Linked DNA regions of Homo sapiens: region 1 is linked to region 2. Evidence: fine-mapped expression QTL. A gene starts in region 2. The other region holds a variant in brackets. All regions are shown on one strand. Distances are from middle to middle.

The links. PIP is the estimated chance that this variant, and not a neighbour inherited with it, causes the effect.
Region 1: its variant is the best candidate, but not a certain one, in a credible set for the expression of SLC46A2 in cerebellum (GTEx, PIP 0.88).

The regions. Positions count from the first base shown.
Region 1 is chr9:112,849,285-112,854,661 of GRCh38, reverse strand. SNX30 (sorting nexin family member 30) reads right to left here. Exons shown (of 9, transcript NM_001012994.2): 7 at 3,717-3,803. Among named protein-coding and RNA genes, the nearest start is that of SLC46A2, 39 kb to the left of the region's middle. The variant G/A (reference allele first, on the strand shown) is at 3,064.
Region 2 is chr9:112,888,668-112,894,044 of GRCh38, reverse strand. SLC46A2 (solute carrier family 46 member 2) reads left to right here and starts at 3,169. Exons shown (of 4, transcript NM_033051.4): 1 at 3,169-4,492. The coding sequence starts at 3,364.

The DNA.
Region 1 (5,377 bases), 39 kb after region 2:
GCTGCTGCCACTGTTACATTACATTCACTGGCACACCACCAGGACAGTCTATTTTGTCTTTAAAAATCACAATTGCTAAAGAAGCAGCAAAGTGAATGTGGCATGGTTCAACATCCCACCAGGAAGAGGGAAGGTGAAGATGGCCCAGCCACAGTGTGCTAAGAGATCGCAGATGTGTGTTCAGGACGGACTAGTCATTTTCACGGACTGGGGCAAACCCTTAGCCTCTGGTAAGAATTCCTGTGGCCGAGAGGATGAGCCATGTGGGTAAGTAGTGTCCAGGAAGGCGGACAACAGCAGCAGCCAAAGATTTCCACAGCACGGGGAGTGGACAGGAATCACCCAGACCCGCAGGAATGTGAGGCCAGGAGCCCTGGCAGGCAGCTGTGGGGGTCTGAGGGCACAAAACCAGCGTCTCCCTCTGCTCGAGACTGCTCCAAGCCTGGTGTGTGCTTCCAGCAGCCAGCAAGCCAGGCAGGGTTAAGACTTAACTCAGCCTATTATTCCGAACCTTCAGCTCCTGGCTTTGGAAAGGAATGTGTCCTGTATAGGGATGAACATATTAAATGACAGCATCAGCCTCTGAGAAAGCTCGTATTCAGTGCTGAGCTTGTACAGATGCTATTTACAGAACTACATACATGACGTCTTTAAAATGCAGGATCCTCGGTTTCCAAACTAGGCCAGTGGCAGAACTTGTTGGTTCTCCTTCCTTCCCTAGCCAGAAAAAGTGACTTCTATTTTTCCTTAAATATTTAACTGACACATAAAATTACATACATTTCAGGCGTATGACGTGATGATTTGATACATGTACACACTGTGTAGTGACGATCACAATCGAATTAATGAACACATCCATCACCACCCACATTTTGCATGGAAGCCCCAGGATTTTGTTCACCTTGTAACTGAAAGTTTGTACCTTTTGACCACGATTTCCCCATCCTGAGTCCCGGCAACCACCGTTCTACTCTCTGTTTCTATGACTTCAACTTTGTTAGATTCCACATATAAGTCAAATCATGCAGTTATTTGTTTTCTGTGAATGACTTCTATCTTTACATTTGCTGGCTAAATGCAAACTTTTAAAATATATACAAATAAATCATCCTATGTCATCCCTTTAAATCCCTTTGTTGAAAGGAAACTTTAAAAATATACACAAATAAATCATCCTATGTCATTCCTTTAAATGAGACTGAGACATGGCTTCAGTAGATGGCACCATGTTCCAGAAGATCACAGGCCAGCTCAGAACTCGTCAGTGGGGCCGGCCATAGGCAGACAGAGGGCAGCTGTGTGCACATGGCTCTGCATTTCTGTTGTCGCCTCCCTTGTGACAGACACACAGGATGGAAAAAGGCTGACAGCCTGTGGCAGGAGGAACCAGAGGGAGGGTGCCAGCTGCATACGCTGGGCCAGTGACTACAGTTCCAATCCTCATCATCTGCCTTTCCATAGATACATGCAGCCTTTACGCTCTGGTGTAGATCACTAGGGGTGATCCTGCTGGAATCAACACAACAAACATGCACAGGATGGAGAGCCACTCGGCATCAAAGAGGCTGGGCAATTTGTCCAGCTCCTTTGTGCCTCATTTCCTCACCCACGAAACGGGGAAAGAACAATGCCTTCCCCCGGGCCTCAGATGACCACTGCAGTGATCCTGTGATGCAATTAACATTAAGGACACTACAAAAAGCCAAGGTGTGTCATTTCTGAGGTGTGGGTTTCAAATTCCAAAGCTGGTTCCTTTCCAGGTATGTCTTGGCATGGCGGCAGCGGCAGGAACCATGGCAAAGGAGGAAATCCCCAGCAGCTCTGATGTCAAACCATTTCCCTGAAATGCAAGTCCCTGCTATTATCTTACTAACGTTCCTCACTCTTACCCCTCTCTTTGAAAACAAATACACGTTCCACTTACAAACCAAAAAGAGACAGAGTGATGTAATGGTAGGTAGCAAAATTCTAAAGTCAAACTGCAGGGTACCATCCTAGCTCTACCAGTGCTAGCTGTGTGACAGTGGGCCTTGGTTTGCTCATCTCTCAAATGGGGATAATAATGGTACCTAAACCTCATGGTTGTGGTATGGAATCAATGAAATTTTACACATACATGCACATATACATACACACAGTTGTCGCCTCGCTATCTGGTGGGGTGGGGTGGGGATCAGTTCCAGGACTTCTGAGATATCAAAATCTGTGAATGTTCAAGTCCCTTACATAAAATCATGTAGTGTTTACATATAACTGATGCACAGCCTCCTGTATACTTTAAATCATCTCTAGATTACTTATAATACCTAATACAACATAAATACCTTGTAAATCATTGTTACACAGGTTGGGCGTCCCCAGTCTGAAAACCCAAAATGCCCCAAAATCCAAAACCTTTTTTTTTTAAGATAGGGTCTCCCTATGCTGCCCAGGCTGGGGTGCAGTGGCCATTCACAGGCGCAATCATAACACACTGCAGCCTCTAACTCCTGGCCTCAAGGGATCCTCCCACCTCAACCTCCCCAGTAAGAGGAGGCCTGCCTATGGCCAGCCCCACTGACGAGTTCCGAGCTGGCCTGTGATCTTCTGGAACATGGTGCCATCTGCTGAGCCATGTCTCAGTCTCACTTAAAGGGATGACATAGGATGATTTATTTGTGTATATTTTAAAAGTTTCCTTTCAACAAAGGGATTTAAAGGGATGACATAGGATGATTTGTTTGTATATATTTTAAAAGTCTGCATTTAGCCCACAAATGTAAAAAGGTGGTAATCTGGCTCAACCAGTTCTGCAATCCCACCCAGGAGCAGAAGACACAGCAAGAAAACCTCACTTCCACCCGCTATGATTCCATCTCCTACCTGACCAATCAGCACTCCTCACTTCCTAAGCCCCTACCCACCAAATTATCTTTAAAAACTCTGATCCCCAAATGCTCAGGGAGAATGATTTGAATAACAGTAAAACTCCAGTGTCCAGTAAGCTAGTTCTGCACGAATTACTCTTTCTCCATTACAATTCCTTTGTCCTGATAAATCAGCTCTGTCTAGGCAGCAGGT[G/A]AGGTGAACCTACCGAGCAGTTACAAACACTGGAGCCAGAAGGCATCCTAGACAAGCAAGATTAGTGCTGCTCGAACTCTGTGGAGTAAAGGGCCACTTTTTGTTGGCTTTTTTCCCCCAATTCGACCAAGCTGTAGTCCTGCCGTGCAGAACCAGCACGCAGCTTGCTCCACATGCAACTCCTCACGCGAGTTTAACACGCTCGCCTTGAGTGTTCAACACAATGTGTTCAACTGGTTCTGCAGCAACATCAAATTCCTATAGAAGTTTCCAAGTGCTTCTATACTTTCCTCATCATGGATTGTATAGTTTGTGGGCCTATGAACCACACTTTGAAAGCACTGATTTAGGCTATTCTTTCCTTCTCTCTGCAATGCCATTTTATGGAGCAAGGAACTGCCGATGAATGGCAGAGCTGTTAAGTCTTTAAAAAACCAAAAATTAGGCCCAGGAAACAGTGGAAAACTCAATCCCAAGTGAACACTAGGAACTCGCAGAAATAGGACAGAAAAGGGAGTGAAAAAGGACAACATCATCAACGTAGCCCAGCCGGCACTGACCACTCTTAGTCATACAGATCTAGAGATGAGAATTTACTTAGCACCAGCAGGGAGACTACAGCTTTGCAGCCCTTCCCAGGTGGCTTCCCTGACCTTGGGGCGGTCTTCCTTCCGCAGAGCCACAGCTTCCAGTTTGGCTTCATACTCTGCTTGAACTTGGTCCCTCTTCTTCAATACACTCTGTGGGAGGCAGAGGAGAGAAGCATGTAACACTGAGTCCACAAAGGGGCCTCCCACCCCCAGGCAATTGCTTCTTTTCCCCCACGCCTCCCCAAATCAAGGCCTACCCCAGGCCCAGCCATGTGCTCCTAGGACAGTCTGGCCATGGCAGAAACTCTGGAGGAAGCAGGAGAAAGGAGGGAAGAGAGGAGAACCACTCCTGATGCTGGAGTTTCTAGTAAAGTAACTAAAACCTGACGCTGAAAGGAAAGAAATTCTAGGGAAAGGCAAGTGGAGGAAACAGCACCCATCCATTGTCACGCTGCTGGGAGGACTCTCCGCGTCACTGTGTGCAGCCAGAGCCCGGCTGTGCAGAAATGCGGAGCTTTGCAGGCTACAACACTGGATGTTCTCTGAAATCTTAAAGTCTAAGAGAACTCTTCACTCTTTAATTCACTGACTGGACCCCTAGTGGACTGATCTGTTCAATGATTCATTCATTAGCCACTTACTAGTCCTCTACTCTGGTCCAGGTATAGAAAGAGCAGAGAGATGCACTCCCTACCTGAGAGGTTCAGTGTGACAGAGGCTCAGACACAGTATGCGCCTGTATGTGCTAAAGGGGCTATACCTGTGCAAGTCCAGAATTCCTAGAACCATGCAGCCAGCCCACCAGAGTGAAGGCTCAATGGGCCCCAAGAGAGCCAGCCCTGGATGGGACAGGAGTGAGGCAAGCTAGGCACCCGGGGTGCAAAATGTAAGGAGACACTCCCTCTTTGGCCCATGTGAGTACAAGGTTGGCACCTGACAGTGAATGCCCTGTAAATCTGTGCCTGGGGCTCCCCTCACTTAGTCCAAGCTCTGCTGCTATGAACCCACCAAGCAAAACAGAAAAGCTTGCAGTAGACCTTCTAGAAAGGTGTCTGTTTCATCAACGAGTTTCTTTCTTCTTCCTTTAATAGAATCACAAGTGGCAAACCAAGAGTGATGAGACCTTTCTTTTCCACTAACTCAAAAGAAATAAATTGCTATGAAAGTTTCTAATCATGCACTTTCCCCACAGGGGACCTTCCAGCAGCGTGAGGAGTCAAGGCAGGAAGGAGTCACTCCTTGGCTAAGCACGGGCACCCCATATCCCTGCCTGTGCTAAAGGTGACAGGCAACTGAAGAGTTGAGAGTGTTGTGGGTTCAACCTTCTAATGGAATGTGTCAATACCGGAAACCTCAAGTCTTCCTCTGAAAAGTTTGCTTTAGGAAGTGTTTTATCATGAAATGAAAATGAGGTTAAAATTGCAATAATTTTTCGTCAATTGCCACTCAGCTGTCTCCTAAGTGCCCTGACATTCCCTCCCCACACTCATTCATCTTTGAGTAGGAATATTTACAGTGCTGTTCAATGGAACTTTCTGCTATAATGGAAACGTTTTATAATCTACACTAACCCAGGAGCCACTGCCTCCACGTGCCTACTGAGCACATGAAACAAAGCTAGCAGGACTGGGGAACTGGATTTACATTTTTATTCAATGTTACTCATTTGAATTTAAACTTAAATAGCCACATATGGCTAGTGGCTACCATACTGGATGACATAA
Region 2 (5,377 bases):
GAGCAACCTGGATAACATAGTGAGATGCTGTTTTTACCAGAAAAAAAATTAAAATTAAAATTAACTGGGTGCAGTGGTGCATGCCTGTAGCCCCAATTACTTGGGAGGCTGGAGCAGGAGGATTGGCTGAGCCCGGGAATTTGAGGTTCTAGTGAGCTTTGATCGCAACACTGCACTCCAGCCTGAGCAACAGAAGCAAGACCCTGTCTAAAAAAAAAAAAGAAAGAAAAGAAAAAAAGAAAGAAAAAGAAATTAAGAACTGAGGAGCAAAGGGAGGTCACACTAAGGATTCACATGTACATGATACAGTAAGATGTTTAAAATCCACACTAGACATTCTTATTCTTCAAAAGTTCCTTCAGACCACCCTGACGCCAAGAGTTCTAGTCCTGACCCTTCTCACCAATACCTGCTGATCTTACTTCCTCCCTGAACTTCTTTCCCCTCTCTTCTCCCTCCTTGGTTCTCTCTCTCACCCTTCCCTCTCGTTGACTCAAGCATAAAGGTTCCGCCCCCTCTCTGGAACCTCCTCCACAGCTGGAATCCTCAGACCTGAGAATTTCACTCTCTAACACTGACCAAAGGTGTTTTTCAAAGACTGTTCCTTTCTAAGATGAATTTAGGGGCTATGAATTTTGTTAAGAAAACAAAAGTATTCCTTGCCTGAGTGTAAAGTGCCTGGGATATAGGTTCAACAGATAATCTATCCACTCTCTTGTTCCTATTTATGCAATACATTGTTGATCAACAATAATCACAACATGATTGTGTTGTTTCTACTCCTCTCCACATTCCAATGTGGGTTAAGAGGACATCCTCAAATAAAAATTTCTGGCAACTGTATTTTCCCCATAGCTGTAGGCTTGCAAAGACTGTCTGATGCCAAATACTAGTTTCCTGATTTACTGGCCTTGTGATCTTGTGCAAATTTCCTAACCTCTCTGGTTTCAGTATCTCAGTCTGTAAAAATGGGGTGATAGATCAGCTCACAGACTTCTCGGGAGGATTAAATTCATTCACGTAAAATGCTTAGTACATAATAAGGGCTCAAAAAATATTAGTTGCTACTGTTTTTTTTCTTAGTTCCTTTCTTCTGGAATAGTGTGATTTTATCAATCTAAACATCAGAGATTTAGTACTTGCACTTTAATGAAGCCAACCTTGCACTGGAGACTAGATTCTATCTTGAAGTGGCAAGGTCAGGGCTCTACTTGCTGGTAGCCTGGGCTGCAGAGGATGACCAGGTGCTAGCTCACCTGGGGCCTGCATTCAGAGATGGAGCAAGAAGTGGGGACATGATGAGAATATAATCCAACCCACAGTAGCCTAAACTGGGAGAGACACTGACTACCCTGAGTCTTGTTCATTTCCAGGCCAGAGAACTCAGAAGCCTGGGGGTTCCTAGGGCTGACTAGCATCCTAATAACCCAGCTCCTACTAGATCTGTTCTAGATCTGATGTGACTCTCTCAGAGACCCTTCAAATGTCCCTGGTTTCCCAAGACAATGGGAAGAACTGAAATACCACAGACCCTCCCAGAGATGACAAGGGCTGCCCCCTACAGTCTAGAGCCCTAGAATGCACAGACTCCTTGATCAAGTGGCCAGAGTGGTCCATCTGGGTCAGGTTGTTCTCATGGCCATATTTGATTGTGGAATACCACCTGGCCCCATAACCTACTCATTCACTGGAGTCTCCACCCCTCATAGGATCAAGGTGTTTGGACTGTTTGCTGTAGCCTCTGGAAAAATTAAGAATGGAGTGGGAGAGCCAGGCTTGGGTTGGGTGAAACATGTATCTCCCAAGGTGACCCTAGGTGAGGGGGAGGAAGAAGGAAATGGGCTGCTGGGCCAGATCCATGGGGCACATCTTGAAGGGCAAGACTAGGTGTGTCTTTCTCTTTGCAGAAGGCAGAGTCGTCTGGGCCTAGACACGAGGAGGCTGGGCCATGCTGGAGGTTGAGGGTGGCAGGGGAGGAGATTATAGCCCACCTAAACACTACCAAAAGAGCACATAGATACACTAAATCATTTGGAATCCAGTCCCTACTCCCTACATGAGTATATTATCCATGTGGCATTTTAAGCTCTCCCTGCATACCTGCGTCTCCCTTTCATGTCTTTGGGTTCCTGATCATCCACGCTGCCAGAGCTATAGTGGATTGTGGGTAGAGGGACAGGAAGGCTGTGTGCTTTGAGTCTCCATCCCTGGGGCTGACCATGGAACAGGTCATGCTCTGTGGTACATTTTGGCCCCTGCACCATCCATCACCCTGGTTTTCTTTGCAGAAGTATGTACCTAAACAAGAAGCGAGGCCACCTGGGAAGTGGAGGTCTCAGCCCAGCCCAGGGGAGTGAGCCCACAGACAGAAGAAGAGTGACTACTAACAAGCAGAAAGGGACCTGGGCACTTGATTCAGATGAGGACCCTGGTGACTCTGCCCCTTCCAGTGGGCTCAAGCCCCTGCCCAAGAGTCCAGTTTTATCATCTAGGGGGACATCTAGGGCTGGCAGGATCTTGCCGTCTCTCCCTTGGCCCTGGGGTTTGGGGCAGGAGCCTTCTAGACAAGGCCCAGGCACTAGGCCCACCAATGCAGGTGTACCAAACAGGACTCTTCTCTAAGAGGCCTTTGGCTTGGAGAAGAGCCTGGACCTGGCGGCTCCCAAGTTTTTACTTCTCTCAAAGTGCTACCCAGCTGCCTATAGCACATGGGCCCCTGTTGCATTAAATCTATAAATAAAACTTCACACCCCAATACTTATCCTAGGCAGAATCCTAGGCGTCCCACCCCTCGCGCAAACCTGCCTTCCTGGGATGGGAGAATTTGGAAACGCTCCCTGAGCCAGTCCTGGGGAGCTTCCTTCCAGCCCCTGCCCCGGTGGTGGGGGGTCCGCAGAGATCCGCGGGAGGTCCGGGCACGCACGCCTGGCTGTGGGGAAATTCGGCCCCGTCAGGCGGCCGCGCTCACAGGAGCAGCGTGACCCGTCGGCCCCGGGGGTGCTGGCGCCAGGAGCCAGCACTCGCGGTGCGCTCCCCCGCGCCTGGCTTCCCTGGACTGTCGCCAGTCCTACTCTGCCTGAGGTGGCGAGGGCAGGGTGGAGCGCGGCCTTTTCTGGCCTGAGGAGGAGTCACTCGGGAGGTCACTCGGCTGCTGGGCGGGCTGCTGTCACAGGCGCTGCGTGCCCTGGCTCTGCTCGCCACTGGCCGGCGCGCTCCCGGCGCACGGAGCACACTCGCGCTCCCGGCGCACGGAGCACACTCGCGCTCCGGGACTGAAACCTGAGCAGCCGTAGCAGCCGAATTTGGGAGCATATCCTTGTCACTGCAGCCAGAAAGCCCTTCGATCCCCATCAGAGAGGTCACATGAGCCCCGAGGTCACCTGCCCGCGGAGGGGCCACCTGCCTCGCTTCCACCCGAGGACCTGGGTTGAGCCCGTGGTGGCCTCGTCCCAGGTGGCTGCCTCCCTCTACGATGCGGGGCTACTCCTCGTGGTGAAGGCGTCCTACGGAACCGGAGGCTCCTCCAACCACAGTGCCAGCCCATCGCCCCGGGGGGCTCTAGAGGACCAACAGCAGAGAGCCATCTCCAATTTCTACATTATCTACAACCTTGTGGTGGGCCTGTCCCCCCTGCTGTCCGCCTACGGGCTGGGATGGCTCAGCGACCGCTACCACCGAAAGATCTCCATCTGCATGTCGCTGCTGGGCTTCCTGCTCTCCCGCCTCGGGCTGCTGCTCAAGGTGCTGCTGGACTGGCCAGTGGAGGTGCTGTACGGGGCGGCGGCGCTGAACGGGCTATTCGGCGGCTTCTCCGCCTTCTGGTCCGGGGTCATGGCGCTGGGATCGCTGGGCTCCTCCGAGGGCCGCCGCTCTGTGCGCCTCATCCTCATTGACCTGATGCTGGGCTTGGCGGGGTTCTGCGGGAGCATGGCTTCCGGGCATCTCTTCAAGCAGATGGCTGGGCACTCTGGGCAGGGCCTGATACTGACGGCCTGCAGCGTGAGCTGTGCCTCGTTTGCCCTGCTCTACAGCCTTTTGGTGCTAAAGGTCCCTGAGTCGGTGGCCAAACCCAGCCAGGAGCTCCCCGCCGTGGATACCGTGTCTGGCACGGTTGGCACATACCGCACTCTGGATCCTGATCAGTTGGACCAACAGTATGCAGTGGGGCACCCTCCATCTCCTGGAAAAGCAAAACCCCATAAAACCACCATTGCCTTGCTCTTTGTGGGTGCTATCATATATGACCTGGCGGTGGTGGGCACAGTGGACGTGATCCCTCTTTTTGTGCTGAGGGAGCCTCTCGGTTGGAACCAAGTGCAGGTGGGCTATGGTATGGCTGCAGGGTACACCATCTTCATCACCAGCTTCCTGGGTGTCCTGGTCTTCTCCCGCTGCTTTCGGGACACCACCATGATCATGATTGGGATGGTCTCCTTTGGGTCAGGAGCCCTCCTCTTGGCTTTTGTGAAAGAGACATACATGTTCTATATTGGTGAGTCTGTCATTCTTGAGGAGGCAGGACATTGCTAGCCCTCTGCATCATGGGGCTGACACCAGGGATGCCATGGTCTGGGTGTCCTAGCTCAGCACCAGGGATTGAACCTGCTACCTAGGAGGCACAAGGGACACAAGATTATATGCCCCTGAGTTTATCTGTAATGTATTGTTAATTAATTATCTATATTGAGAATGAAATGTTACCAGAGTGGTGTTCATGGTTCTGGGCAGTCAAGGAGGTGTGGTCAGTGGTACCTGGAGTCAGTAGGGGAGGCTTCAGGATGGCCTTCAACAGAGGAGATGGAATTGGGTTTCTTCCCCCACACCCCCTTGCCATTTTAAAGGGATGGAATTTCAAAGGCCGAGCGCAGAGGCTCTCGCCTGTAATCCCAGCACTTTGGGCGGGAGGTGGGAGGATCACTTGAGGCCAGGAGTTCAAGACCAGCCTGGCCAATATAGCAAAACCTCATCTCTACCAAAAGCATAAAAATTAGCCAGGTGTGGTGGTGCACACCTGTAGTCCTAGCTACTCAGGAAGCTGAGGCACAAGAATCACTTGAACCCAAGAGGCAGCGGTTGTAGTGAGCCGAGATTGTGCCACTGCACTCTAGCCTGGGTGATAGAGCAAGACTCTGTCTCAAAAAAAAAAAAACAAACAAACAAAAAAAAAAAAACGTGGAGGAGTGGAATTTCAAGTAATTCTACTGAAAAGATCCCTTAATTAAAATCATTTGGAGTCAAGCAAGGGCTTTTTAAAAATGCATTAAAATACTCGGTAAATGCCTTCCACAACCAATGTAATAAATTCCCCAAGGAAGCAGCATTAAGTTTCCATCTGAGGGCACAAGTCAGACAACTATAAGCAGAAAGCTCGAGATGA